Linked DNA regions of Homo sapiens: all the other regions are reported to be linked to region 4. The links are microRNA targets in miRTarBase. Many come from high-throughput screens and were not tested one by one. Region 4 holds a microRNA gene; each other region holds the end of a gene's coding sequence.
Evidence for each region. The annotated mature microRNA hsa-miR-6768-5p reads CACACAGGAAAAGCGGGGCCCUG and lies in region 4 at 1,872-1,894, opposite strand. An mRNA with a match to its seed (bases 2 to 7 or 8) in the 3' UTR can be bound and repressed. Matches are read on the target gene's strand: a 7mer-m8 pairs with bases 2 to 8, a 7mer-A1 pairs with bases 2 to 7 and ends in A, and an 8mer does both.

Region 1: miRTarBase lists ZMAT4 as a target of hsa-miR-6768-5p. Seed matches in the 3' UTR shown: 7mer-m8 at 2,596-2,602 and 7mer-m8 at 2,440-2,446.
Region 2: the mRNA of PTPRJ is a reported target of hsa-miR-6768-5p. Seed matches in the 3' UTR shown: 7mer-A1 at 2,905-2,911 and 7mer-A1 at 847-853.
Region 3: the mRNA of NAP1L1 is a reported target of hsa-miR-6768-5p. Seed matches in the 3' UTR shown: 7mer-A1 at 2,218-2,224.
Region 5: miRTarBase lists IL1RAPL1 as a target of hsa-miR-6768-5p. The part of its 3' UTR that is shown has no 7-base or 8-base seed match.
Region 6: the mRNA of MTCH1 is a reported target of hsa-miR-6768-5p. Seed matches in the 3' UTR shown: 7mer-m8 at 3,802-3,808.

The regions. Positions count from the first base shown.
Region 1 is chr8:40,528,432-40,533,400 of GRCh38, forward strand. It overlaps ZMAT4 (zinc finger matrin-type 4), which reads right to left. Exons shown (of 7, transcript NM_024645.3): 7 at 2,159-3,807. The coding sequence ends at 3,792. Among named protein-coding and RNA genes, the nearest start is that of SIRLNT, 190 kb to the left of the region's middle.
Region 2 is chr11:48,166,472-48,171,440 of GRCh38, reverse strand. It overlaps PTPRJ (protein tyrosine phosphatase receptor type J), which reads right to left. Exons shown (of 25, transcript NM_002843.4): 25 at 602-4,237. The coding sequence ends at 4,079. Among named protein-coding and RNA genes, the nearest start is that of OR4B1, 48 kb to the left of the region's middle.
Region 3 is chr12:76,044,512-76,049,480 of GRCh38, reverse strand. NAP1L1 (nucleosome assembly protein 1 like 1) reads left to right here. Exons shown (of 15, transcript NM_004537.7): 14 at 231-281; 15 at 1,017-4,969. The coding sequence ends at 1,052. Among named protein-coding and RNA genes, the nearest start is that of PHLDA1-DT, 15 kb to the right of the region's middle.
Region 4 is chr16:2,461,224-2,465,865 of GRCh38, reverse strand. MIR6768 (microRNA 6768) reads right to left here and starts at 1,899; the gene lies at 1,828-1,899. It overlaps TEDC2 (tubulin epsilon and delta complex 2), which reads right to left. Exons shown (of 10, transcript NM_025108.3): 4 at 4,642; 5 at 4,066-4,119; 6 at 3,627-3,717; 7 at 3,340-3,451; 8 at 3,134-3,235; 9 at 1,637-1,827; 10 at 903-1,344. The coding sequence ends at 1,198. It overlaps TEDC2-AS1 (TEDC2 antisense RNA 1), which reads left to right. Exons shown (of 1, transcript NR_135198.1): 1 at 1-916.
Region 5 is chrX:29,955,577-29,960,477 of GRCh38, reverse strand. IL1RAPL1 (interleukin 1 receptor accessory protein like 1) reads right to left here. Exons shown (of 11, transcript NM_014271.4): 11 at 3,760-4,901. The coding sequence ends at 4,658. Among named protein-coding and RNA genes, the nearest start is that of MAGEB2, 260 kb to the left of the region's middle.
Region 6 is chr6:36,964,596-36,969,564 of GRCh38, forward strand. It overlaps MTCH1 (mitochondrial carrier 1), which reads right to left. Exons shown (of 12, transcript NM_001271641.2): 12 at 3,546-4,379. The coding sequence ends at 4,308. PI16 (peptidase inhibitor 16) reads left to right here. Exons shown (of 7, transcript NM_153370.3): 7 at 1-242. Among named protein-coding and RNA genes, the nearest start is that of PI16, 12 kb to the left of the region's middle.

The DNA of each region.
Region 1 (4,969 bases), not on the chromosome of region 4:
CTGCCAGCCTCAGCCTCCCAAAGTACGGGGATTACAGGCGTGAGCCACTGCGCCCAGTCAAAAATGCCTTCTAAAAACATTTTGGTTTGGTTTCCAGGTGCTTTTTGTTTCCCTAGGTGCTATATCTGCCAGTCTTGGGTTAGATGCTCTCAACCCATGCTAGGATTCCATTTCACATCAAAATTTTTATATCTTAAATTTAAAGCCAAATTTACAAACATGAATATTACAATCAAATATTCAGACAGTTGATTTGACATGCACATCTTAAACTAGAAAACAAATTAAGGCAGGATTTATACAGAGATCCATATTTTTAAGCACTTGATATTTATTAATTAGCGAATCCACACCAGAATCCTATGAGGTAGCCTAGCTTGTCTTTATTATAAATAAATTAGGTAGAAGCCAGAAAAAAAAAAAAAAGGCTATCTCCACAATAATATGTTGATTGGACCCTCCTTATTCTGGTCACAAAAGAAAAACAGTTCCTCATATAAGTGGGTCAAGTGAACAATGAATATTTTGTTTGGATGGAATATAGAGAGAGTATAGTTATTTTATTACCTGGCAGTTTAAAAAGGTAATTTTCTTAGTGGGGCTTTAATATTCTGTGTTCACACTGACTTGTCAGAAATTTCCGACTCAAAATATCAGCTTTGGAAGAGTTAGAATGCCCCCACACTCCACCCCCAGCCCCAACCAGAAGGCTCAAATTTTCCTATGGGAGTTTTAGTATTTTTCATGTATCTTAAATTTTTCATCCTTTGGTCTGGTTGACCTAATAAACTCATGTCAATAAAAAAGTGTAAAGACTCTTTCAGTTCCAATTTATGCTTATATATGTCGTCTAACAGGCAAGTGAAACACAAATCCTATTTGTCTTTGTAGTCAAGCAATTGCGGATGAGAGTTTTATTACTACCTTTATCAGCCAAAGGAATCACTGTAGTCCCCTTTACTTAGCAGATTACTTTATGACTATATTTATTAGTTCACTGGGCTTGGAGACTAAATTTAATGAAGACTCATTAATTTGGGTTTCACTACCGTGGCGTTTGTGGCCTCTGGCACAGGTGCTAGCCTGAAGCTTACCTCTGTACTGACGGAGAAAAACTTTTTGCAAAGTAAATTAACTGCATGACCAAGACTATAGGAGTGTTTTATCTTCTTAAGAAGACAATTTCAACCACGTAACCACTAACCTTTTAAATACAAATAATTTTACTCTGATATAGTATAAGGAGTCCATTAAGCTTGTGTGTTATGTTAATTTTGAATAATTTTTCCCTCACTGCAGCAAAACTTTAAATGGGCAGTATTTGGTTAGTTTAGTTAACATTATTATAAAAACTCTGGAACAGTAAAAATACTTTAAATATTGATAATTTGAATAGCTTCACTCTTTCAAATATATGGGTTCTTTCCTAGGTCCTTTTAATTAACATTTTACAGAAAATCACTTGACTCATGTTCTCAGCTGGCCCGGAGTCTCTGCTGGGACCACGTGTCAGCAGCTCCGGGTGGACTGGACGTAAGACAGGGACACACCTGGGTCTGTGTGGGTCTCTTTCCTCTCCTTCAGAATTGATTTGGTTATTTGAAAACATTTACCTTCCATCCCACTCCCATCCACTCATAAAAAAATGGGAAGGTAAGATATGACTTAGCTGAACAAACACAACCACAGCAAACCAAACAGAAAAGACAACCACAAACAGCTAGCTTCCCAAGTAGGAATCTTTCCATTCCAGAATTCCCAAAATATAAACAACATTAGCAGCCCCTTCCTGCCTAAAACTAAATATGTCATCTCCAGGGTACACTAGAATGATAATTTCCACTATCTGCATGGGCAAAAATAAAGAAATTTGAAAACAAACAAACACACAAAACCTCTGGCAGGGTATTCACTTGCATTTGACAGGTTGCCAAGGAGCAATGGTATTTAGATGAGGAATTCTGAAATAATCTGATTATTATGGCCGGAAGATTATCTATAAAGGGTTTGGCATAGCCTCTCTGTAAAGTAAAAGAAATCTATGTTCATAGACTTTTCTATATTAGGTTATTTTAAATACACACACACACACACACACACACACACACACAGCACTTTAGGGCATAAGCTCACTCACTAAACCCAAACTGAAACAGTGTTTTGTTGTTGCTGCTGTTTTTACTCGGACAATGCTTATTTTACAGCGGAATTGACAAATAAAGCCTTATTTTACACATCCGAAGAAACACCATCACAGGAGGTTTGTAGGTCGGCTGTGTGCTTTCCAAAACAGCAAAATAGATTCTTCCCATCCAACCCCCTTTCCTCTTGTAGAGTAGGGTGTGGCTCGTGGGGCTTCGTCTCTCTGCAGGCACAGAAACTGGCAGACCTGGTCCCTCCTGAGCGGGCCCTGCTCAAGGGAATGGTGCCAGATTTTGAACACAGGTAAACAGGCTCCTTCATAACAACACTGTGCATTTCTGTGTCATTTTGTTTATTGCTCACTGAGTTGTTGCCACCTCAGCTCTTGGTGGAAAACAGTGGGTGTCCAGAAATTGCTGACACAAGAAGATGGATTGCCTATGGTCGTTAGGGACACAGGGCAGCCCCAGCCAGATCCCAGCTGGTCCATGCAGGGCATCGTCAGTAGAAGCTCAACGTCCCACTTCGTAACCAGGCTACAAGACACCAAGTCCGGTCACCATGGAAAAGAATTAAACCTAGAGAAAGAGCCTCATGATCTGCACTCAGACGCTCCCCATCAGAAAGGAACTGTTTTCTTTATCGGTCATGCTCTTTCCAGAGTGACTGAGTCTTGGCTCAGCAGTAGGACTTCAGTGAGAAACAGAAGAAATAGGGGACCCCGCCTAGCCCAAGGCCGCCATTTCTTCAGAATTTTCTCACTTCTTTCCAAACGATCAGTATCCCCCAATTAAAGCCCACAGTTCAGGCCAAACATCATAAAAAAAAATACTTGTTTATTTCCATCTCATTCTGGGGTTTATAATTCTTCTTTTGGATGCTTTTGGGGAAAAAAATTCACCAAGGTCAAGGGCTGTGAAGACGTTTTTGCCTAAGAAGATCATCATGCAGGCAGACTAATTCTTTTCCTAAGCTATTATTTGGCAACTTGCAAGGAGGACTTGGCTTAACCTTGAGAAACTGTTCTTTGAATGATCAGGAAAAAAGATGAGAATTCTTCCTTTATTTACTCCCTTCGTCTTCATTGTTCAGATGGTAAACCTGGCTCCTGTGCTTGGAGAACGGAGAAAACGACTGGTATTTATTTGTCCATTTGGTATTTTCCACTAATAGTGATCTGTTCCAGTTCTGTGCATGTCACCCTCAACTGTGTCCAACATGATGAGAAAAGAATGTATATTTCTGGATAGAGGTGGTTTACATCACACTCATTGAGGATTTAACAGAATAATTATGCTCTGAGGAAATCTAGAATAAATTGGAAATTTAAATTTTTCCACTTTCAGTTTGAATAATGCTCCAACTGTTTGCTATAGGATTATAATTTAGAACATGTGCTAAATATGTTATCAGGAAAGAATTTAAAAATCCATCCAAATATCATAACTTACCCCAAAATTAAAAAAAGGAAAAAGAAAAAAGAAACCTCATTCATTTCCAAAAATCAAGATCAGTCGTATGTGAATCTGTGAATCCTTATAAGAAATGTTTATTGTTCAAGAAAGAAGCCTCCTCTGGTGGTTGATAAGCAATTCTCCACGGCAGAGAAATGCTAATGTTTTGTTCTTATGTCTTGATTGATGCTTTCACTACTTATTCTTCAGGCTATAAGACAGAAGGAAACACAGTGTTACCTTCTTTCATAATTACAAATTCCAACACCTCTTTCTCCCCCCCACCCCCTGTCTCTCTTCTACTTCTCATATTACCTTAACCATCAAATTCAAATGCATCTGAATTTGTAAAGTTAATCTTTCAGGTTCTAAATAACCTGTATATATAAAATATCTCCATTACTAATGCCATCTCCACATACGTACAAGAAAATGTATAGCTCTACATTGTCAATCCAGACACTAAATTCATTCCAAATGTTTTTAAATAAAAATAATGAATTGATTTTTATTTATGGCATGCTGCATACACCCATCTTTAAGTTTCAGGTATAACTACATGCAGAACCCTCTTGTTGAAAGTGGAGAGCAACATTACAGTGGCTAAATTTCAAATTAATATAAGCCTCGTTGTCCACTCATTCAGAATTTTCTCTGTTAGAAGAATAGAAAAAAAAAATTGTTTCTGGGCCAGGTGCAGTGGCTCATGCCTGTAATCCCAACACTTTGGGAGGTAGAGGTGGGCAGATCACGAGGTCAGGATATCAAGACTATCCTGGCCAACATGGTGAAACCCCGTCTCTACTAAAAATACAAAAATTAGCTGGGCATGGTAGCATGCCTGTAGTCCCAGCTACTCAGGAGGCTGAAGCAGGAGAATCGCTTGAACCTGATGCAGTGAGCCGAGATCGTGCCACTGCACTCCAGCCTGGCAACAGAGGGAGACTCCATGTCAAAAAAAAAAAAAAAATTCTTTCTGGCCTTACTTGCAAAAAGTATTGATTTAATCAAATTGAGAGCCAATTTTTGAAGGATTTTTAGTTTTGTTTTTTTCTTTATGACAACAAGATACTACCTCTTACAACATGCCTACTACGAGTCATGAATTTTACATTTACTTTACATTTTAATTTAATCCACAGACCACTTTTACTATGTGTGCCATTTCCACCCCTTTTAAAGGTGAGAACACTGAGGTTTCACTTGGCTAAATTAATGGCACAAGATCAAACAGCTGTTAAGCAGTGGAACTTGAACCCTGGAAAAACTCATAAGCAGGAGGTGAGAGAGCTTGTTGACATCTTCTGCCGGGGATTTCTCGCATGCTGCTGAAGAAGTGCTCCAGCTGAAAGGAAGCTGCTGGAAAAGCATCT
Region 2 (4,969 bases), not on the chromosome of region 4:
AGTCCCAACTACTCGGGAGGTTGAGGCAGGAGAATCGCTTGAGCCCGAGAAGCAGAGGTTGCAGTGAGCCAAGATCATGCCACTGCACTCCAGCCTGGGCGACAGAACAAGGCTCCATCTCAAAAAAAAAAAAAAAAGAAGGAGATTAGGACACAGACAAGCAGAGGGAAGACCATGTGGAGGCATGGGGAGAAGACAGCCATCTGCAAGCTACGAAGAGAGGCGCCTGAAGGCTGGGGCAGGAGAACTGCTTGAACCCAGGAGGCAGAGGTTGCAGTGAGCTGAGATCACGCCTCTGCACTCCACTCTGAGCAACAGAGTGAGACTCTGTCTCAAAAAAAGAAAAAAAAAAAAGGCCTCACAGGAAACCAACCCTGCCCACATCTGGATTTCAGCCACCAAAATTGTAGGAAGTAAATCTCTGCTGTTTAAACCACCAGTTGGTGGTACTTGTTACAACAGCCCTAGAAAACTAAAACAATCCGGAAATCCCAAAGAGAAATGTGTTTTTGTTAAGGATGCCCAAGTAAAATGCAGGCCAGTAAACTGCTTGGCACATTGTAAGAAGGAAAAAAGAAGAAAGAAAGAAGCAAAGGCATAATGCATTGACATTTTTTTATATTTGGTATTTGTAAGTCTTTAAAAAAATGTTTTCAGGCCATTTTTTCCTTAAAAAAAAAAAAAGCAACCAACAGCAATACTCTGTACAAGTATAACAAACATTAGAAATATGCATCATTCCAAAATAGTTACAGGAAAATTACAGTTTAGAGTCCACATCAACACATCCTATTTGTATGTGCCCCCAAGGGAGAAAAAGCTACAGTATGTTAAACACACAGCTGCTACACAGTAGTCTGAAAACCCAGGACTTAAAACTTTTGAGGCAAATCAACAACAGTCACCAAGACTTGTTTAGCTCAATAAGTACAATCAAGCATTTCAAAAGAGAACCAGGCTTTTTCATCCCAGATGAAAAACACACGTGATGGGCTGCATAGCTGACCCCCGCCCCTCGATCCCCAACCCCCGGGAGCCTCTGACTCAACAGAGCACAAATCCAGTGGAGTCAATTAGGCGGAAGTCTGGCTGGAGGTCACAGTATGGCTGCAGTGGGCAGACACCAAATGTCATTTCCTGCTGGTGCTGATCATCACTAGATCCAACTTTGGAGGCAAAAAGTCGTTGTTCCTGGGAGATGCTATCAATGGCCCAAATCCCCCAAACCAGCTGGCCACCAGTCTTTGGCCCTTTCATTGACACCCAAACCCATACCAGCTGCTTTTCTGTATGCAATTGTCAAAGACTGAACAGGGGTGCTCACACCATCCCCCCGATTCCACTGGACTCTTCCAATTTGAGCTCATTGTTCCTGGGAGGGGTTGAAGCTCAGAGGCACCCTCCTCTTGCCTCTGACCAACCCCCAGCCTGTGTGTCCTTTATATTTACACATTAATCTTCCCTTTTCAAGCACTGTGCTATAAATACCCTTACCACCCCCACTGGCCCTGTCCCCAGCCCTTTTCAGGATGCAGAGAAGCATCGTGACCTTCGTGTGACCTGCCCATTTGGAATCCCAGACCGCTCCCCCGCAAGAGTTCCTCCCATGATTGCTGGGGCCGCTTGCCCATTTCCCAAGCCCACACCAGGCGGAAGGGAAGAGGGTTCCTGTGTTTTTCATTTTTATACAATATGTTTACAGTTATGTTGCTTTAATCTTTTAAAGTATTTAACCTTTTAAAGGATTTTTTAGCAACAAGTCCCTTCCTCTGACTTCTCTGTGGCAGTGATGTGGGCAGAGCAGGGCTTAGGAGCTCCCTGGGATTTGCCACCCATCACAATGGTTTCGGACATATTGGAGGGGAGAGGGCCACAGCCCACAGAACTGCTGCCTGAACAGGGACCTATGAATGAAGTACCGACCGCTCCGAGATCTGTATGAGTTGGAGGCAGGCCAGTGTGAAGGTGTGGGAGGAATCCGCCCACACCCAGCTTCATACAGCACCCTGAGGACAATGTGGCTTCCCTGATTCACACCTACTGAGCCAAGGCCCCCTCTGAAGTTAGGTCAAGAGGGCCCACCCTAGCCGGGCCAACTCATTCCTTTGAGGACCTGATACTCAATGAACTGCTTACTACCAAAAAAATGCAAAGGATTCAGCAAAAAGTGCAATTTCCATTTGAGAAGTAAGATTCTCCCCAAAACATGACACCACCTTTTCATCCTTTCAGTACCTCAAAGGGAAAGGGAAATAAAAGGCATACAGCACTAACCCTCCGAACCACAGCCGGGGCTTTAAAAGTGTGGTTCACCCTTTAGAACCCTAAAAGACCCATTAACACGTCCAGTCAGTTATCGAAGTGCCAGTGAGGTGAGGGGCGTGGCAGAGTCAGGAGGGACCAGGAGGCTGGAAGAGCCCGCTCACATTCTCAACAGGACACACCTGTCCTGTTTACAGCAGGACACATTACTGTGGCAACAGCCACAGGACTCCAGGGACTTGGTTATTCCTTCATAAAACCTTGTCAACTTCATTGCCTATTGGAGGATAAACTCAAAACATCTTCAAAATATAACCTGAGCCACAATATAAAATAAAAAGAAAAAATCTTTTCATGTTAATGCCTTAAGAAGTTTACAGATTATGTACCAATAAAATAAATCCACATAAATTTGAAATTCTTGGTGGATACACACCTGAAGCAAAAAAAAAAAAATTAATCTACATTTTAAAAATCAAAGTAATTACAGCAGCAGTATAGTGAAAAGGTTTTAAAAATAATAATTACATCTTTGATACAAATTCAAACTTTGTACACCTCAATTCATAGGAATGACTGTTTTTGAGAGCTTAGTGTATATATATATATATATATATATATATATATATATATATATATATATACACAGTAGATTCCGATATGTGTCACGGCAGAGAGAGACGAAAGCCAGTGGACTTTGGGGAAGGAGGGATTAATCTGACACTGAATTCACGCTGAAGTGTTCACAGATTGCCACGCTTCTGAACATACACACACACATACAGACACAGACACATAAAATGCCAACCTGAGTAAAACGTTACTAAAAACCTAGAACATCATGAATCACTAATTCACATATTGCACCTTTAAATAATCCTTCATACCAAATACAGACATGAGAAAAAGGATAATACAGGGACAAGAAAAGGATTTCTGCCACTGTAGGATTCCTCTGCTTCTCCCATTCCCACCCACAGAAATTCTCAAGGTGATATTTGAGTCGCCATTCTCACCCAACCAATGGGTTGAAAATGTTGCCAACAGAAGAGTCTTTGGAGAAAACTGGGAGGGAAAAGGGAAGAAAAAATGGAGCACAAATGTACAGGGGGCAGGGGAAGCGGAGTCGGGGCAAAGAGGCCTCCCCTGATCAAATGAGAACAGAAATGTTACTGAGGAAGCAAACCTCTGATGCTAAGCTACTGTTTAAATATTCCGTATATTCCAATTATGAGATTCAGTACAAAAATATAGATCTCTACTGAGTTTTGCCTGTGGAAGCATAATTCAGAAAAGGCACATGTTCAAATAGAAAACCCATTCGGAAGAGGTGCCACGTACCCCTCCCTGCGCAATCATCATCCACAATTAGGTATTTTCCATCGGCTAGATTCCAAGACACAGTAGGTAAAAATAGACCTCTGATACTTAAAATATATTCAACCCAACACAATCCTGGCTTTAGCATGTGAATCATATAAAATAGTCTTTTTTAAAAAAGAAATTGTTTTGGAAAAAAAAATCATAGCTCCCTTTTCCTGGTTTTCCACAATCCTCAAGGGGGAAAAAAAAAAAAAGTGACCTCATCCCATTGGTCATCAGGAATGCAGATGATTTGCTCCCCACCCATCCACAGCCCCCGACAGCCCCAATTTGTCATCTATCATATGCAGCTTCATGCCCTCAAAATTAGTTCTCACAAAACAGAACAAAGAATTAAGATATTAGACATATAAAAACATGTCGACATCGGGGCATGTGCCTTCGCTGTGGGTGCGACGGTCTGGTTCACTCCAGAAAGGTTATTCCTTTGGAATTAGGCGATGTAACCATTGGTCTTTCCAAATGTGGTCACGGGCGCAAGGTTTTCATAGATTGTCATTGCAGTTGTGTTCTGGTAGATAAGATCTACTTTTGAGTCTTTCTGGGATCTGACAATATCCAAAACACACTGATTGAGGAAAACATACTGGTCCTGATAGAAAAACGAAAGAGAGAGACAGAAAATGAACATGGGTCCCAGAAATTAGCACCCAAAATTATTTTCAAACAGGTCATTCCCCCGCCCAACTCCCAAACCCCATCCACCCAACAGCAAACGGTTCAAGCGAACATGTTTCAAGAGGTAACAACATTGCAGTGAAATCTGAAATCACAGAAGCAAGATGTCCTTCCTCAATGATTCTCAACCAGAAGAGCACACTCCACACCTCCCCTCCCCAAGGAAAAATGCCACAGTCTCAGGGAAGGGCAAAGGAAGGAGGAAATGTAGAGGAAAAAATGCACACACACATTCGAACAATCAAATGTCCAACAAGATTGCCTTGGCTAGTGAGACTGTACAGAGTAAGAATCAACTGTAATGCTCAACCGAGGAGCGAGGTTAAAAGGAGATGATCAGGTGGAGCTGGATGAGGACTATCCTTCAGGTAGGTATATCAGAATCTGTGGATAGTGATGAAGAAAAGAGGAAACAAGGGTATAAGCTGACACAGAAAAATATCCATGATATTATAAGAGGAGAAAAAAAATCACAGAGAAGCAACATACATAAAACAGGATCTGGCCAGGCGCGGTGGCTCCTGTCTGTAATCCCAGCACTTTGGGGAGGCCAAGACAGGTAGATCGGCTCAGGTTAGGAGTGCGAGATCAGCCTGGCCAACATGGTGAAACCCCGTCTCTACTAAAAATACAAAAATTTGCTGGG
Region 3 (4,969 bases), not on the chromosome of region 4:
CAACGTTGGCTGCAGTAACTATTTTCAATAAAAGCTGTCTGGATGTCTCAAGTTGTGTTGGGAAATTTTTCATATTAGAAGCTTTCAAATTAAATTGTATTATCATCAAAGTCTGTAATCATGAAAATCTGTTGATCCGTAGAGTAACTTGTATTAAATTTTCCCTACATTATGAGCCAGTTTACCTACTATGTACATACTTCATGGATGCATTTTGAACTTTAATATAGGAAGGGGAAGAAGAAGGAGATGAGGAAAATGATCCAGACTATGACCCAAAGGTGAGCAAAATTAGTGCTGCTTTCTATTAAATTTAAGATAGCTAAAGTAAGAGTTGGTGTTTTTGAATATCAAGTTTCTCTCCGTTAAAGTCTTTAATAAATAAAGCCTATTGACTGGATAACTTTGTTTTTTCAGTCCCACTGGCATTGTGAACAGTACACATAATTTCAGTGGACGTTTTTCTAAAAAACATTGTTTTTTGTTTGGACTTCGTGCTTTTTATAGTTTCAGGTACAGTGAACCCTAGGATTCTATTTTAATGGGACGATTTGTAACAGTTTTTAAGCATTAGAAAATAAAGGTTTTTAAAAGATCTGGTTGTAGGAGTGTTCGGGAACTGGGGAGCAGTGCAGTTTGTTAGATCCTTCCAACTACTCTTACTCAGTCCCTGAGAGTCCTAGTCTATTATTCCTGAGAATTTGTTATATTAGGATTAGCAAAAACAAAGCTGATTGGTAATATAACTAACATAAATTGCTTGGTAACTTTATTTTTTTAAGATTATGGTTTAGCGTGTGTCACATTTTATGGAGTTAATTCTACAGTGTAAAGTTTGAGCTTGATTTTAGCATTTCAGTGACTTGCTAATAAAATAAATAATTTACCACCATTGTCCTATACCATTTCTTTTGACAACAGTGAGCTACTGTTATAATTAAGGCAGTAATTACTATTGAGAAATTCACTGAAGCAGGTAGAAGAAGATAGATTGACTTGTTGTTTTCCTTTAACAGAAGGATCAAAACCCAGCAGAGTGCAAGCAGCAGTGAAGCAGGATGTATGTGGCCTTGAGGATAACCTGCACTGTAATAGCCTAAACACAACTCTTATTTACTTACAGCCTTATGTTTTTGTATTTTCTTGGTAGACTAGGTAATTTTTTTTTAAAGGACAGGAAACTGATATTTTAAAGACCAATTTGTTCTACCTAGCATTTTAACTAGTTTTTCTGCCAGCTATGTTGAATGCACAAATTCTGTCACGCATGTTCATTCATTGCTACATAATTTGGTTCTTCTGGAATATTTTTATGTAGCTCTTGGAGTACAGCTATGAAAATTAACAACTGTTAAAGGAAATACCTTTTTTTTTTTTTTGTAATTTTTTCCTTGAAGAACCAAAGTATTTTTTCAGCTGGTTGTTGAATAGGGTTAAGTCCGCTTGGATTAGCTGTGCCTTTCATTACTTTGTTACAGAAATGCAGTGACTTATACTAAGACAATTTATTGTTTAAAAAAAAAATTGGCAAGACAACTATATGGTTAAGAATTTCCAGTATGACCACACCCAATAACTGTTATTAGAGTGTTAATGGATTATTGTGTTTTAGGTGACATAGTTAACTGTAAAGTAACCTGACTCAGTATAGTTACTGGTACCACAGTGAGGTGAATAAAACGGGATTTTCAGAAGTTAGCCTGAATTTAACTGTATTTTTAAATTTAACCTCCATTAACTAAGCATCTTTTCTTTGTGGTAGGGTCTACCTTCTGCTTCCCTGGAAAGGATGAATTTACATCATTTGACAAGCCTATTTTCAAGTTATTTGTTGTTTGTTTGCTTGTTTTTGTTTTTGCAGCTAAAATAAAAATTTCAAATACAATTTTAGTTCTTACAAGATAATGTCTTAATTTTGTACCAATTCAGGTAGAAGTAGAGGCCTACCTTGAATTAAGGGTTATACTCAGTTTTTAACACATTGTTGAAGAAAAGGTACCAGCTTTGGAACGAGATGCTATACTAATAAGCAAGTGTAAAAAAAAAAAAAAAAGAGGAAGAAAATCTTAAGTGATTGATGCTGTTTTCTTTTAAAAAAAAAAAAAAAAATTCATTTTCTTTGGGTTAGAGCTAGAGAGAAGGCCCCAAGCTTCTATGGTTTCTTCTAATTCTTATTGCTTAAAGTATGAGTATGTCACTTACCCGTGCTTCTGTTTACTGTGTAATTAAAATGGGTAGTACTGTTTACCTAACTACCTCATGGATGTGTTAAGGCATATTGAGTTAAATCTCATATAATGTTTCTCAATCTTGTTAAAAGCTCAAAATTTTGGGCCTATTTGTAATGCCAGTGTGACACTAAGCATTTTGTTCACACCACGCTTTGATAACTAAACTGGAAAACAAAGGTGTTAAGTACCTCTGTTCTGGATCTGGGCAGTCAGCACTCTTTTTAGATCTTTGTGTGGCTCCTATTTTTATAGAAGTGGAGGGATGCACTATTTCACAAGGTCCAAGATTTGTTTTCAGATATTTTTGATGACTGTATTGTAAATACTACAGGGATAGCACTATAGTATTGTAGTCATGAGACTTAAAGTGGAAATAAGACTATTTTTGACAAAAGATGCCATTAAATTTCAGACTGTAGAGCCACATTTACAATACCTCAGGCTAATTACTGTTAATTTTGGGGTTGAACTTTTTTTTGACAGTGAGGGTGGATTATTGGATTGTCATTAGAGGAAGGTCTAGATTTCCTGCTCTTAATAAAATTACATTGAATTGATTTTTAGAGGTAATGAAAACTTCCTTTCTGAGAAGTTAGTGTTAAGGTCTTGGAATGTGAACACATTGTTTGTAGTGCTATCCATTCCTCTCCTGAGATTTTAACTTACTACTGGAAATCCTTAACCAATTATAATAGCTTTTTTTCTTTATTTTCAAAATGATTTCCTTTGCTTTGATTAGACACTATGTGCTTTTTTTTTTTAACCATAGTTCATCGAAATGCAGCTTTTTCTGAACTTCAAAGATAGAATCCCATTTTTAATGAACTGAAGTAGCAAAATCATCTTTTTCATTCTTTAGGAAATAGCTATTGCCAAAGTGAAGGTGTAGATAATACCTAGTCTTGTTACATAAAGGGGATGTGGTTTGCAGAAGAATTTTCTTTATAAAATTGAAGTTTTAAGGGACGTCAGTGTTTATGCCATTTTTCCAGTTCCAAAATGATTCCATTCCATTCTAGAAATTTGAAGTATGTAACCTGAAATCCTTAATAAAATTTGGATTTAATTTTATAAAATGTACTGGTGATATTTTGGGTGTTTTTTTTTAAATGAATGTATATACTTTTTTTTTGAAGAGTGGAGAGTAGTGATGTCTAGAGGGAGCTATTTTGTGCTGAGGCCACTATGTTCTGTAAATATATAATTTTAAGAGCAACCTCACAATCCCTGCTAAGTGGAGTTTATTATTTGAAGACTAAAATGGAATTCCATAGTTCCTGATAGGTTATATTCTGGGTTATTATTCTGAGTTATCTACAAACATTTTTGAGATTTGTCTTTACACTCTGATTGTAGTTTCCAGCAGCCCATGCACACTGCCAAGTAAGTCTCATTTTTTCCTGTTAGAAATGGTGAAATATCATATAATCACTTATAAAGAAAACTGATATGAAAAAATTTTAGAGTTGTTTGCTTTATGGTCACTCAAGTAGGGTAAGTGTTCCACAAATTCCACAAGTTGATAGTTTAACATGGATGTCTGAAAGCCACATATATAATTTCTTAGGATTCTTAAATTAGTAAATCTAGCTTACTGAAGCAGTATTAGCATCACTATTTTAGATTGCAAAAATACCTTAATTGTGTGGAACTGGCTTGTAGAGTGGTACTTAAGAAAAATGGGATTCTACCTCTATTTCTGTTTTAGCACACTTAATCAGGAAAGGATATATTAACTTTCATAAAAATATTTTTGTTGTGTGAATAGGTTAATGATATGGTAAGGCCCCTAAAATAACTGAATTAATTGTTTATTGTAATTGTAGGCCATTCCCATTATTAAAAATAAAGACAAAACTTGAAGTAACTGAAAATCTTATCGTGCTATGTAGAAATATTGAACTAATATTCAAATATTTGAATGCTTTGGTTTCAGGGATTGGTTTAAAATTGGAGTCCTTTTTTATGGGTTAGTCTTACAAAAATTTAAGCCTTTATATTTTTGACTTTAAATCAAAACAAATGTTATTTTAAATGTACAGAATAGATTGGTAGTGCAGAAGAGTGTAAGTTCTTCATAGGAGCTTTAGAAAAGAGAAATATGTGCTAATTCAGTTTTTTTTTAATCTGCACTGTACATATATACTTGGTAATTATGAGCTTGATTTTGTTTTTGGAAATATGTGTTCATAATTTAGGTAATTTGCTACTTAAAGCACTAAGTCTCTGATACCTGAAAAGTACATGTAAATGGTGATGGTGAAATAATACTGCAGTTAACTTAATAGATGTATACTGGTGATTTTTGTATGCTGGATTAAAACTCCAGATATTAAAATATAACCTGGATAAAAAGCCAAGTTCTTGGACTGATTGAGGATCACTTACATGACTTTACAGAAATGGAAACATCCTTGTTGGTATATGAAATTATTTTACTCAAGGATAAGTATTCATAAGAAATTTTGATTGATGTATATTTTCAAAAATACAGTATGCTTTGTATCTTGTGTTTCTTCCTTTTGACATCATATTGTCAGGTTTTCCAGTTTACAAAAATTAAGTTATTCACTAAAATCTTAGTACAGACAGTCCCTGACTTATAATGGTTTGACTTAAGACTTCAGCTTTATGAGTTTATTGGAGTATTAAACACATCTTCTACTTATGATATTTTTGACTTACAGTGGGCTTATTGAGGCCCGACCATGTCATCCTCAAGCCAAGAGTCTGAATAA
Region 4 (4,642 bases):
CTGTGGCAGAGACAGTGGCCGGCCTGTTCTCCAATATGGCCTTGTGGTTTTCGTGTCCTCCGATGAATGCATACAGCCTACAGCCTACAGGGGGCAGGGCTTTCAGCAATGCTGGGCCTGCCTTGAGTGGCCTTGTCCCGTCCTTTATACAGAAGGGATATCGAGACAGAGTCTCGCTCTGTCACCCAGGTTGGAGCACAGTGGTGCAATCATGGCTCACTGCAGGCTCAAAGTGCGAGGCTCAAGCGATCCTCCCGCCTTAGCCTCCCAAGTAGCTGGGATTACAGGCAGACACGCCATGCCCGGCTCATTTTCAAATTTTGTGTAGAGATGGGGTCTCACTGTTGTTCAAACTGGTCTCAAACTCCTGGCCTCAAGCAATTCTCCCACTTCAGCCTCCCCAAGTGCTGGGATTACAGGCGTGAGCCACCACACCCGGCCCACTTATAATCTTGATAAATACACTTGATATATTCTTTTTCAGCATGACATGTATCAACCAGTGATATAACTTGATAAAATCATAAAGAAACAACAAGGGCTCACCAAGTCCTACCTTGGCATGATTTAAATACATATGCTTTCAGCCAGGCACGGTGGCTCACACCTATAATCCCAGCACGTTGGGAGGGTGAGGTGGGAGGATCACCTGAGGTCGAAAGTTTGAGACCAGCCTGGCCCACATGGTGAAACCCCATCTTTACTAAAAAAAAAAAAAAAAAAAAAAAAAAAAAAATAGCCAGGCGTGGTGGCCGAAGCCTGTAGTCCCAGCTACTCGGGAGGCTGAGGCAGGAGAATCGCCTGAACCCAGAAGCGGAGGTTGCAGTGAGCTGAGATCACGCCACTGCACTCTAGCCTAGGCGACAGAGTGAGACTGTCTCAAAAACATAAATAAACACAAATGCTTTCTAAAGTGGCTTTAATATCACACAAGCGGCTCTTTGGTCTACAGTGAGAGAAAACAGAGGGAGCCAGGAAAGGCTCCCCGCTGGCCTCTGGAGTCCAGGAGCCTTAGGAAGGCTGAAAGCCAGCCCTGACCAGCAGGCTTAGTTGTCCTGAGAAGAGCCAGTGAGGCCACCTGGTCCAGTTCACCAGGTTTCCCAGGGAAGCACAGGCATCTCTGGGTCCCCGAGCACAGTGCCAGGGAAGACACCCCCAATCCCCATCTGAACAGGCCGAGGGCAGCATGGGAAAGGCTCAGACTGCAGGTTCATCCCGCAGGATGGTAAGGACACGTGCTCCTCCCTCGCAGAGCAGGCTGTGCACAGCCCGGCACAGGGCCAGCCAGGGCGGCCCCTGCGGCTGTGCAGCGCTTACCAGGGGGAGGAGTTCAGCCATCAGGACCTGGGGGCAGGGCAGGGCAGGGCCAAGGTCTCAGGGGCACCTAGGCGGGGGGCAATCCTGGGACAGGCTTCGAGGCCCCCATGCTTCAGCCCTCCTCCCTCCTTCTGAGGCTCCAGGCTCCCTCCTGCCGTCCCAGCCCCGTCTGACCCATGCACTTCCCAACCCACACACACAGACCCCAGGCTTGCCCCCATCCTCCTGGGTCCTGGGGGGTGGAGCAGTCAAGCCCCTACCCTCGGGTCCTCAAGGCTGCGGACCTCTGTTGCACCCCCACCTCCTCTTCCAGAAGCACCTTTTCCAAGTGGATCTGCTGGTCCAGCACAGCCACTCGCAGCTTGAGGGCCGCCAGGGTCTGCAGCTCCTGGGTGCTGGAGTAGACAAGCAGCTGGGGGCTCCATGCAGGCTCCGCTCTACCCCCACAGGACGGCGAGGCTCCGGGGGGCCTCCCCACAGGACATGGTCTTGGTGGCTGTTCCGCCACCGCTGTGTGCACAGGAGAATGTGGCCTTTGGGGTAGCAGCCGAACCCAGGGCCCCGCTTTTCCTGTGTGCCTGGCCCTCCCGCATCTGCACCACCTGCCCTGCCTTTAGGAGAAAGGTGGGCTTTCAGGACAGCCCCATGCAAGATGGTGTGTCTTGGGCCTGGACTTGCTGGCAGGGAGTCCTCTGTGGGGTGGCCCTCTGCCTGCCTAATTTCTTTACTGTGTTTATGCATGACTTTTATGAGATTGTCTTTCCTTTTGACAAATGATGTATCTTCACTCTTAAAACTTCAAGCAATTAGAAAATACAAAGGAGGAAACAAGTTCTATAAATAACCACCTCACGCAATCCCAGGCGAGTCACCTCCCAGGAGCTGATTCTCACGAGCTACTTTCTCTTTTTTTTTTTTTTTGGAGACGGAGTCTCACTCTGTCACCCAGGCTGGAGTGCAGTGGTGCAATCTCAGCTCACTGCAATCTCTGCCTTCTGGATTCAAGCAATTCTTGTGCCTCAGCCTCCCAAGTAGCTGGGATTACAGGTGTGCGCCATCATACCCAGTTAATTTTTGTATTTTTAGTAGAGATGGGCTTTCGTCATGTCGGCCAGGCTGGTCTTGAACTCCTGACCTCAAATGATCCGCCTGCCTTGGCCTCCCAAAGTGCTGGGATTACAGGCGTGAGCCACTGTGCCCGGCCTCACACGCTACTTTTTCTTTTTCTGAGACGGCATCTCACTCTGTCGCCCAGGCTGGAATGCAGTGGCGCAATCTCAGCTCACTGCAAGCTCCTCCTCCTGGGTTCACGCCATTCTCCTGCCTCAGCCTCCCAAGTAGCTGGGACTACAGGCGCCCACCACCACGCCTGGCTACTTTTTTATATTTTTAGTAGAGACAGGGTTTCACCGTGTTAGCCAGGATGGTCTTGATCTCCTGACCTCATGATCCACCCGCCTTGGCCTCCCAAAGCGCTGGGATTACAGGCGTGAGCCACCGCGCCCGGCCCTCACATGCTAGTTTTTCAACAACTGGGTGAATAAGCAACTGCTCAGAGCAATGAGGTTCTGTGTGCGGGGAGCAGCGAGGTGGGAGAGCTGCCCTGAGGAGGAGAGGAAGGCTGACTGCTCCCATAGGACGACTGGTGAGGACCCAGCACACTGGGGAGTGGCGTGGGAGGGGTGGAGGGGCCCACCAACTTGCATCTGGTCCCTGGGCTGCTCACCCTTCCCTGAGGCGCAGACAAGCCTGGCTAAAGCACCCTGTCCCCGGCCCAGACCTCAGTGCAGGTGGCAGGGTGGGGGCGGGGTCTCACCTGCACGCAGCTCCTGCAGCCTGTGCAGACACTGGCCCACCATGGCCTGCAGCCCCTCCAGCGTGAGCAGGCAGCGGTACTCCTGCATCCAGTCCATGGGGGCTGCAGAAGAGTCAGGGAGAGCAGGTGGGGCCCGTGGCAGTCTGGAAACCCTCCCTGCACTGGCCCTCCACACTCCTCCTGATACAGACCCAGGACCCACTGACCTGCCGAGAGCTCCTCCCTCATGCGCAGTCTCAGCAGCGAGCAGGCCTTCCGCAGGCGCCCCGCCTCCGCCTCCACCTCCACAGCACTGAGCCTGGGCTGGGGCCCGCCTGACTGGATATGGGTCAGGAAAACTTCCCTGCAGCCAAAGCCCCTCTGCTCCCACCAAGAACGGGGCCTGGGGAGTGGCCCTGGCCATCCCACGCCAGCCCCTCCTGGGGCTGCTCTGCAAACCTGCCAGGTTCAGAGCTAGAGGCCCCCAGGGCTCCCACAAGCCCAGCAAGGATACAGCTGTCTGCATGTTCTGGAGGAACTGGGTTTTGGCAGCGGCGGCATCCGTGGAATCACTGGTCTGTGTGGAACTGAGCTGGGCCCACAGGCTGGGGTGCACACGTGGGGTGCACAGAGGAACCACAGAGGGACACGGTTATTCCAGCCAGTAAGCTGGGCCTTGGGAGGTAGGCAAGGGCCAGGGTGGGGACCCCAGGCTGGGCGTCTGGCTCTGCTGAATGCCAGGAGGGGCCTCCAGAGGCCGCAGGGAACCAAGAGGACACTGACTAGGACAAGGGGACAAAGCTGACCGGCTGGCAGATTTTTAACATCGACAGTGATCCCACTCAGCAAAGAGGACAAAGAGACCCACTGGAAAGTATCTCGAACCTGTCCCCGAGCTGGTGATGCCTCCCGGTTCTCCCCTACCCCCGTCCAGCCAAAGACCTCAGCCTCACCTCGAGTTCTGGGAAGCTGCTTTCCTGAATGCCGCAGGCAGCCGCAGCAGGTGCCTGTCGGAGAAGCCCGTGTTCAGAGGAGCATCGCCTTGCTCTGGGGTCTACAAGTCCCACTTCCTGCTCAGAGCCCAATCAGGGATGAGGCTTCTTGCCCCTCTCCCACACCCGACCCCACCAAGGATGAGCCCCCTTGGATAGGGCTTCCAGAGTGGCCATAGGAGAAGCATCGTCCAGTGCTGCCCCATTAGAGAGAAGAGGGGGCCCTGTGAGCGGGGCCCTGTGAGCAGATCCCACGCCCTCCAGAGCCCATCTGGAGCCTCTGGCCTGGGCAAATAAGGGGACAGCCACAGAGAAGAGAGGAGGACAGGCTCCAGTACTTCCCTGACCTGATGGTGCCAACCTGGACACCACCACACAGCTGCTTCATTCTGCCAGCTTCTGAGCATGAGCCTCAGGGGTATGCCACAGGGCTCGATGCCCTGCCTTCCCTGTCACCCCAAATCCCAGGCTCCTTGCTAGCCAGGGTCTGAGGAGGCAGAGACAGAAGTCCCTCCAGTGAGGGTCCGGGAAACCTACC
Region 5 (4,901 bases), not on the chromosome of region 4:
AAAAAAAACTTGGTGGGATTTTCTTTTTTTTTTTTTAGAAAAACATGTCAAATGTTTGTTTCTTCTTTTCCTGTACTGGATGAATTCTTAGTTATGTTGTAGGAAAAATAATTAAACATAAATCATAAATAAATTTACTGAAATAAGGCATCATTGCCAAATGACATAATTTCACACACCCCAAACTATTTTTAGAATGGGTGAAGACATGAGTAAGATTATCACAACAATGATAGCCAATTAGTTTTTATCTGAGCATGAATTATTTGTCATCATACAAAATTTTTGTTTACAGTATGCTGGGTCTCCCACAAAGCCAGGCCATTTTGGAAGGAGACTTGTCTCTAGTAGAACAATAATTATCTCCAGAGTTTTTATGAATGAAGGTAGACAGTGGTAGACAAAACAATGCCTGTAAGTTATGTGGGTTTATCTGAATATCAGTTTCTGAGAATATCTTCTAAATCCAAACATCAGTAGCTTTTTAGGTGCTAGATGTCTTGAGACTCACACCCAGACGAACACCGTTTTACGCACATTAACAATTTTGTCTGGAATTTCAAGGGCTTTGTTATTTTATTCCTTTTTATAGACACAAGGTATCCTTGAACCCAAGATTAAGATCTACTATTAAGGATAATCAAACTTTGATTATTGGTTACCTTCTTTGTTCAGAACAATAAAGAAGTGTAAAGGATTCATGATAAGGCAAGGAATAGCCTCTGTTTCCATTGATAAGCTTCTCCTTTTAGGGATTCTAGTTGCATCACCATCTTTTGGTAATAACTGTATATACTGTTAGAAAAGTTCCTCAGCAATAGGGAATGTGTGTCTGTCTGTAGATGGGATTTCTAACCTATTTAATAATATTTCACCTCTATTAATCAGCTATGTCAATAATGAGATTAATGACCAAGCAAGTTCAGATCAGAGACAGGAAGGGATTTTCCTCTTCTATGTCTGTGTATTCTCTTACTTCCAGTCAGTCATTTCATTTGTATGCTGATGCTATCCTTTAAATTTCAATATGCTTTCTTCTGGGACTAATGTTACAAACTTAACCTAATAAATAAAGAAATTAATCACAAGATTAAAAAAATACTCCTTACAAAAAAGAGAACTAGGGCATCATTCCAGAATCCAAAAATAATTCACAAATGTATGAATCAATGTTTTCCTAGAAATGGTGATCTTAATTTATATAAATGATATCTGAAAAGTTAATGACTATTCTAGGATAAACAAGACTTACAGTTTAAGGGTTGGCTCTCAGTTAATATTCTTGTTATAAAATGCTAGATAGCAATGAAATATGGAAGAAACCAGCATCTATATTTTAAGATTAAGTTGATAGGGTCCAAATACATATACTATGAAGAAAGTTATAATCACAAAGTGGTTTACTGTTTGAGCAATCGAGTGTTTTTAGCTATAGAAATATAGTAGATTCAGGTCTCTTAACTCATGTCTCAGATTTGTTTCATAGAATTGATCTAAACTTAAATCAGCTGTCTACATGAGATACAAATGTCTTCTCTGCCCACAGGAGACCTAAGGAATGCAGTACAAATTAAATAAGCAAAAGTTTTGAGCACCCAAATAAGGGGTAGGATGCTCATAAGCAGCAAGTAGAGGTTACACTAAAGAACCGGATGATCTTTTGAATCCACAATGTGTCGTTCAGAGCTCGAGCGGCAATTGATGAAAAACAGGCAATACCAAACATCACGTATGTCCAAGTCTGGAAGTCCATTCTCTCCCCCAGCTTGGCTAACATATTCACACTTTCAACTGTGTTTTTACAACTAGAATATTCTTATCCCCCACAGCCCCCACTGAAAAAAGCGAAGGATGAAACCTAAGCACTAGGGGACATTGATTTTTTTCTCTTTTTATTGTGAGTTCTAACAGAACTTTTGTTAAACATAGAGCACGTGAACACATGACAGTTTCCTTCATTTCTTCTCACATGGAGCTGATAGAGGAATACTTGGGAGGAATGTTTCTAAAGCTATAGATAGCTTCTTTTGCATTTATTTCATTTTTTAAATATGACAAAGCATTAGAGGAAAAAGAAGTTTCATAAGTTGTGAGAATATCAAATATTACCCATCAATCCCTGAATCATGCTATTCAAAGTGCTTAAATCTACACTAAAAATAGAACAAAAAATGCACTCCCAATGCAGCTAAATTAACACCTATGGATGCCTAAAATATGACTGTGGTCTGATTACTTCCTCTACATTTATTCCACACTTCCATCGTGCACTGAAAAGAAAAATTAAAAAACAAAGAGATAAATCAGGCCATTGCCACGTTTACAGTTTTCTGAGCACTGGGGGAGTTTGGAATCCAGTCCAGTGAGGTACACTGCCACCAGTCCCTGACAGCTGTCCATAGTACAAAGTAAACAATGGCCTTCTCAGATTCTGAAAATAACCCAATGTGCAAAGCTGACCTTAAAGTTTTATGTGTCCTTGCAGCTTCAGTTCTGGTTTGTGAAAATGTGACACAGATCCAAGGGGAGAGCACGGGAATAAAGAACAGATTATAGAGAAGGACACAGGCGAGTTGTCAGGGAAATAAACAATTTTTAAGCAAATAATAATCAATGCACATCCCAAGGCTCCTTTACCTTGTCACACAGATACTGAGACCTTTTCATTGTTACAAATGCTTACACTTCTTCTTCATATATTTGCAAATTAACCTCACCCTCCCCAATGAACCCTATTGCAGTTTACACGTGTGTGTGTGTGTGTGTGTGTGTGTGGCCACCTTACTATTGTGACCAAAAGTGTAGAATTGTTTTCTCACTAAATGGTGGTAGGAATAAACCAAACGTACGATAGTCACTACACAGGCCCACAGATGATGACTGGGATGGGAGTTCCTACAATGAATCACTAAATTAATGTATAAGTTCTATTATCAGTGTTTTTATCACATTGATTTTTTTTAAAAACTAAAAGCTACATAGGTAATATTTCCTTTTAACAACTCTGCCCTCTGCAGATTCCTTTGTGATTGATTTTGCATCAACCTTCACATGAATATGAATTAGCTGCTTATGTCATTGATTTCAAACATAAAGCTAAATGGTAAGGGATGAACTTCTTGGGAGCATCAGCTTTCTGTTTTCTGAAAGATAGAATTACATAGCTAAAATAAAGCAAATTCTTTATACAGTAAAATTAATTATTTTAAATACTTTCTGATCTAATTTAAAAACTATTTTGTATAAATAATGTTTATTTTGAAAATACTGATCTCTGTTGGTATTCATATGTTTGACCTCCTGAGTTCTTAAACACCTTGATATTAATAAGTGTTGCTTATGTCCACAAACTGAAACCACTTAATTCTTAATGTAGTGTTGAAAATTAAATACAAGGGAGTTAACATTTAATTACAAGGGGGCCGCACAATAAGTTTCACAGATTTTCTCTGACTCTTTAGAAAATAACATTTTGTATAATACAAGGTGACAAAACATATTTGATGACACATCCTGTCCTTCCCTTTGGTTTGGAAGCCTTCAGTGTAAATTTCATTTTGACTTGCGTTGATTCACTCTTTTGAATTAACTTGCCTGGCATTTGCACAGAATCTCATTTGCAGAGAAATTATAGAGGGAAAAGAGGAAGTAGAAGATTAAACAAAAACAGCCACAAACACATTCATGCCTTTCCAGGAAGTGATCAAATATAGGGCTTGATTTTTTTTTTTTTTTGTTTTTGTTTTTTGTTTTTTTTTCTTTTTTTGTTTTGTTTTGTTGTTTTTATATATATTTATATTTATATATATATGTATATATATATAAGGGTACATCAACTCATTTAAAAAACGGAAATAACACTCTTCCCCAATTTCATGCCCTTGATCTTCTCTTCTTAGTACTCTGTAGTGGTCACTGTGAAGTGATTAGCACACCTTTGGGTCTAGAGTGTATTCTGAAGAGCAGTGACTTGAATGTTAAGACAGTTAGACCCGCCCCCACCCCTGCACAGAGTTTACACATCATGCCGCCATTAGAAAGGTAGAGGTGGGGAATGAGGTGGGACAAGGAAGAGATTCAGGGCTCTGACTGGTGGGGCCCTCCTATGAACAAGTGTTCTTCTCATCTTTTTTTTTTTTTTTTTTTTTTCCCCCGAATGGCAATGCTGGCATTTGTTGCACTGTTCTCTGAAGGCCGACGTGGCCCAGTTGATGCTAGGCAGAACCCGAGAAAGAATCCGGTGCTCCTTGTCCCATCGGATAGATTTGTCCAAGCACCCCAAGGAAATGTTAAAAGCAAAGTAAAATTTTAAAAAAGGAAATAAAATAAAAACCCATTCTAAAACTAAACTAATGAAGCAAAAAAAGGGTTTTCTATCTACACATCAGTCTCTTCTTTAAAAAAAATGTAAATTTACAAATTCCAACGACATATAAAACAAAGTCAAAAAATGTAATGGTAAAAGACATGGTAAAACAGGAGGACACTGATGCTACAAAGAAATTCCAAAAAACATATGTACAAGACCCTGTTTTTCCTCGTGTTCTAGAGATTCTAATGCATGTTTTTTAACAGCAGCAGTCGAGGATTTAGTTCCAGGCACTGGACTGCAGATTCCACTCAACCTCCCAGGGACGGGATGTCCCTTGCTTTTCTGTCACCATATCACACTGGATATACTGGTCTCCCTTGGCAACAGCGGCAGGATGGCACTGTTTGTGTGGGCCTCATCTGGATTCTGCTCCCTGCTCGATTTTGTCTGTGGCCGCTGCCCGTTGATGAGTGTCATAGGGATGTTACAGTAGGTATGCTGATTGCCTATGGAGGTAAGAGGCAGGGTGCCGGTAGGAGGTACGTCGTACTCATAGCTTCGGTAGTAGTGTTTCTGACGCATTTGTGAA
Region 6 (4,969 bases), not on the chromosome of region 4:
TCCCTCCTGAGTCCTGGGGGTGGGAGGATTTGAGGGAGCTCACTGCCTACCTGGCCTGGGGCTGTCTGCCCACACAGCATGTGCGCTCTCCCTGAGTGCCTGTGTAGCTGGGGATGGGGATTCCTAGGGGCAGATGAAGGACAAGCCCCACTGGAGTGGGGTTCTTTGAGTGGGGGAGGCAGGGACGAGGGAAGGAAAGTAACTCCTGACTCTCCAATAAAAACCTGTCCAACCTGTGGCAACTATTCCTTCTCTTTCTCATCCCCCTCCTCTAAAACACTCCATTTAGTGTCTCCTCTTTGGGACCCACCCTTCATTTCCTTCCTATAACTCTCGCCTCCCCCTAATCACAGGTGGCAGGCAGGAAGGGGAAGAGCCAAAGGAAGGCCAAGGGTGCTGGGCTGACTCCCCCAGCTTCAGGAGTCACCAGTGGGGCCTAGGTAGGTTTGGAGCCCAGGATCAAAGCATGGCATGCGGCCTCTTCACGGGGGCGCTGCTATCCAGGCCTGTCTGGGACACAAGGTCAGAAATGTACATCAGGCAAGGCTCTGCCAGCCCCAGGTGCTTGGAAGAGTCCTAAGAAAGGGATCTGGAGTCCCAGACCCTCCCCAGGGGAGCAAAGCAGGACTGTCCAGAGGTGCTGAGGATCAGGAAAGCACACATATGCTGGGGTAGCAGTGGTGGATGACTGAGGGTGGCTTGGGTGGTAGGGAGGGGCAGAGCAAGTCTCCAGACCACCGCTGGAAGGTGAGCAGTCAAACAGGACACCACCCAAGTCAGGCCAGGGCTGGGAACCGACCTGTAACCAAGGAGGACACTCCCCTCTTTTACTTTCTTTTTTTTTTTTGAGATAGAGTTTTGCTTTGTCGCCCAGGCTGGAGTGAAGTGATCTCGGCTCACTGCAACCTCCGCCCACCGGGTTCAAGCGATTCTCCTGCCTCAGCCTCCCGAGTAGCTGGGATTATAGGCACCTGCCAACACGCCCAGCTAATTTTTGTATTTTTAGTAGAGACGGGGTTTGGTCAACAGGTGGTCTTGAACTCCTGACCTCAGGTGATCCACCGGCCTCAGCCTCCCAAAGTGCTAGGATTACGGGTGTGAGCCACCACGCCCGGTCTACTCTATGTTTTTTCCAGCTCTATTCAGATATAACTCACAACATAAAATTCACCCATTTAAAATATGCAACTCAACGGTTTTTACTATATTCACAAGGTTGTGTAAAACCGTCACAATTTTAGAACATTTTCATCACCCCAAAAAGAAACCCCATACCCATTAGCAGTCACTCCCTATTTCCCTCCAACCTCCCCAGCCCCAATCAACCACTAATCTATTTTCTATCTATATGGATTTGTCTATTCTTAACATCCATATAAATTCTTGACATATCATATATGTTATGGTCTTTTGTGACTGCTTCTTTCACTTAGCATATAAATATATATAATTTGTTTTAGACAGGATCTTGCTCTGACATCCAGGATTATAGCTCACTGCAGCCTCCAACTCCTGGGCTCAAGTGATTCTCCCATCTCAGCCTCTTGAGCAGCTGGGACTACAGGTGCATGCCACCATGTCCAGCTGATTTTTAAATTTTTTGTAGAGACCAGTTCTTACTATGTTGCCCAGGCTGGTCTTGAACTCCTGGCTTCAAGCTATCCTCCCAAAGGACTGAGATTATAGTTGTGAGTTGCTGCTCTCAGCCAACATACTTTCAAGGTTCATCCATGTCGTAGCATGAATCGGAACTTCATTCATTTTTATTGCCAAGTAATATTCCATTCTATGGAATATTCATTACATTCTATAGAACATTTCCATTTGTCATCGGACACTCAGGCTGTTTCCACTCCTGAGCTACTACGAATACTACTACTAAGCATTCATATACCAGTTTTTGTGTGAACGTTAAGTTTCCAATTATCTTGGGTATATACGTAAGGATATATATAAGGAGGTCCCCAAAGGCCTGTCAGAGGCCCTTTCAGCTTTGCCCATTGGATGAGGTTTCCCAGGACGGGAGGAGGAGGACACTCCTCCTGTCACCCCTCCCTTTGCCAGCAGCTGAGGTCTCCTCCTGCCCAATCCCACCCAATCTCCTTTCTCAGATGAGGACCCAGCATCCTAGTTTCCAGGACTAGTCGACAGGAAACACGCGAACTGCTAGGAGGGCAGATGGACAGGGTCTCACCCCCAAAGATCAAATGGTCTAGGAGCATTTCACACACACAAGAATTTGAATGAACTGAAAACTTCCTGTTTCATTAGATTAAAAACCTGTACTTTGCTCAGCCAATAACTGGGACACAGTATCAAGAGATTTTCATGCCATTTCTGGGTGTGGAAGATGGCCTGGGAAATGAAGTTGAAACCCCCAAATTCAGGAAGTTACTTGGGGGCAGCAGCAGCCCTCCCAGAGGTGACTGGCCAAGGCCACTAAAACCTTGCTCTCTACTCTGGGCAGCCTCTCTGAACTTCTGGGAGGAGCTCTTCAGATCTAGCTTAGCTCAGGCTCCAGAGATACAGGTGCCCCTCAATCTCGGGGGGCCTTAGGAACTAATCAATGCAAAAACAGGATCTGAGGCTGGAGCAACAGGAAGAAAAGATACCCCAGAACAGTGGTCAGTGCTGTGGGAAAGCACGCTGGGCTGGAGAAAGGCCACAGGGCAGACTCCCCTCTGAAGGGCCTGGGAACCCGAGGCCCTCCTTCTCTACAGGCCTGCCCTGCCCACCCCTGCATGTGTTCTTCCCACTACCTTAGCCCTCTTGGGTGTTTCCCTAGGAAAGTTAATATGGGTGACAAAGTTATGAGACCTTAGTGGCCTCAACCAGTGTAGTTACATAATACCCACACAGGCACACTTCTGCGTTCCTGGGAAACAAGGACATGTGAGGTGAAACTGCCTGTGAGTCCACTGTTACTAGGCCACTGGGAACACCCACTTGTGCACAAGCAACACAGGGGCCTTCCCTTTGGCGGGGGTGACTCAGCCCCTACCTGTGGAGGGAAATATGACCAAACCCACCAGACCCCAACTCTCACAAGCCAGGTCACCTCGAGCAAGGGCAGAGAAATACCTGGGGGAACCCAGCTGAGTCTCAAAATATTTGTAAGTTTTGTCTGCTTACAGACTCCAGTGCTGGGCAAAAACCATTTGATGGAAGGGAGGTCTGCCCGTTCTGATGTAACCATGGCCACTACACCAAGTGACTCTTCGTAAAACTTGAAGCTACGTTATCCTCAAATGGTGCTGAGATATGACAGTAAGGGGTGTGAGTGGAACACTTTCTGAAAGGCCTGTCTCCCTGGCAACAGACCTGCACACTGATTGCTGCTGTGGAAACTGACACCCCAGCCTCATCACCCAGTGTCTCCCTGGAGACTGAGCTACACCAAGCTCTGGTACCTACATCTCCAATCTGGCAGCCCCCTGCCCTGCCTCTTTACAGCCCCTTCTCACACCAACAGGAAGGACTTGGAAAGATAGACTCTATAGATAGATTTTTAAACTTACAAAAATAAGAGACGCCCCACAAAAAACTCCAAATCACCAATACATTTATTTGCGGGAGATGAGGTCAAATCTTACCATGAACTTTAAAACTGGGTAGGACTAGAGACACTGATCTGCCCAACCTCTGGGTATTCACAACTGCACAGGTAACCAGATCCTGTACGCGAGGCATCACCATTAAACAGATGAGCATTAGATGAGGAGGACACATTCTGAGTAGTTGCATGATTTCCCATTCAGAGGCAGGTGCTGCCCTCATATCAGAAAAGTAGTGTTGAGAAAAACACAGGCAGAGCCTGGCCATTTGCCTCCTAGCATAGGCCTAGACATGATGGTGGCCACGTGCCAGGGGACCACACCCTATGTACAAAGCAGGAGAATGATGCTCCCAGCTGAGCTGCAGGATGGGCGCTGGGCTGACTGGAGGGGTAGACGGGGTGGGGTCTGACCCCATTAGCCTTTCCCCATCCAACCTGGGCCCCCATAAGCCATTCTCTGGCCCTCTGCACAAGACAGACTCAGCAAATCTGCGAGGTATGGGGATTCTGCCAACTCCCCACCTCGCCTCACCTTCCCTAGGTCTGCCGGGTGACCCAATCCACTGGGTGCAGCCCCACCCCCGCTCAACCCCACATCTGGACAGACACATGGCAAATATGGAACTGAAGCCCGGCTGGGCTGGAGCACATCTGGTTGTTGTTGGGTTGGAGTCGTCTTGCAGGTGTCCCAAGGTGGTCAGGCCTCACCCACGGTGGCCAGGTTGAGACCGTGTTTTTTAGATGATTCAGGTTACTCCAGGGCAAAGCATGATCCTGATGACACCCGGCGGAAAAGCAGGCTGGAGCCTCGGAAGAGCTGGCCCTGGACCAGAAGGAAAAGTAAGGTGAGTGAAAGGGAGGCCACGCTTCCTTGTCCCTCCGAGAGGAAGGCCAGTGTCAGGCAAAGAAGGGTCCAGGAGCTCAAAGACCCAGCTCCGGGGTGGACGGCCTCGGCCTACATCCCTGGAGGGCAGAATCTGCCTGTGTTGAAGCAGAAGGGAGCGGTTCATTTCCTGCCCAGGGGTGTCTTTGGGGCTACTCTGTAGGAGAGCCCTAGAGAGGAGGCTCATTGCCCCTCTTGCTTCAGAGCCCAAGTGGTCTAGGACTCTTTCAGTGCTCATAGGGAGGACGAGACACACTCACGCTGACCAGGGCCACTGGGAAGAACTGCGGCTCTCCTCCCTGCTTCCCTCCCATCTGTCCTCTTCTCAGCCTCGAGGCCACTCAGAGTTCTGGCTCCCTCCGGGCCACTGCCCCATTTCACTGCGAGGCAAATCAAGGCCAGGAAAAGGCAAGGTTCTGCCCTCGGCCAAAGCCTGGACCCCTGACTGCTGGGCCCAAGAGCTCCAGCTACGGAGAGGTAGCTTCGGTACAGAACACGAGAACCCAAGGTTGGTACTGCTGCCAGTTCCC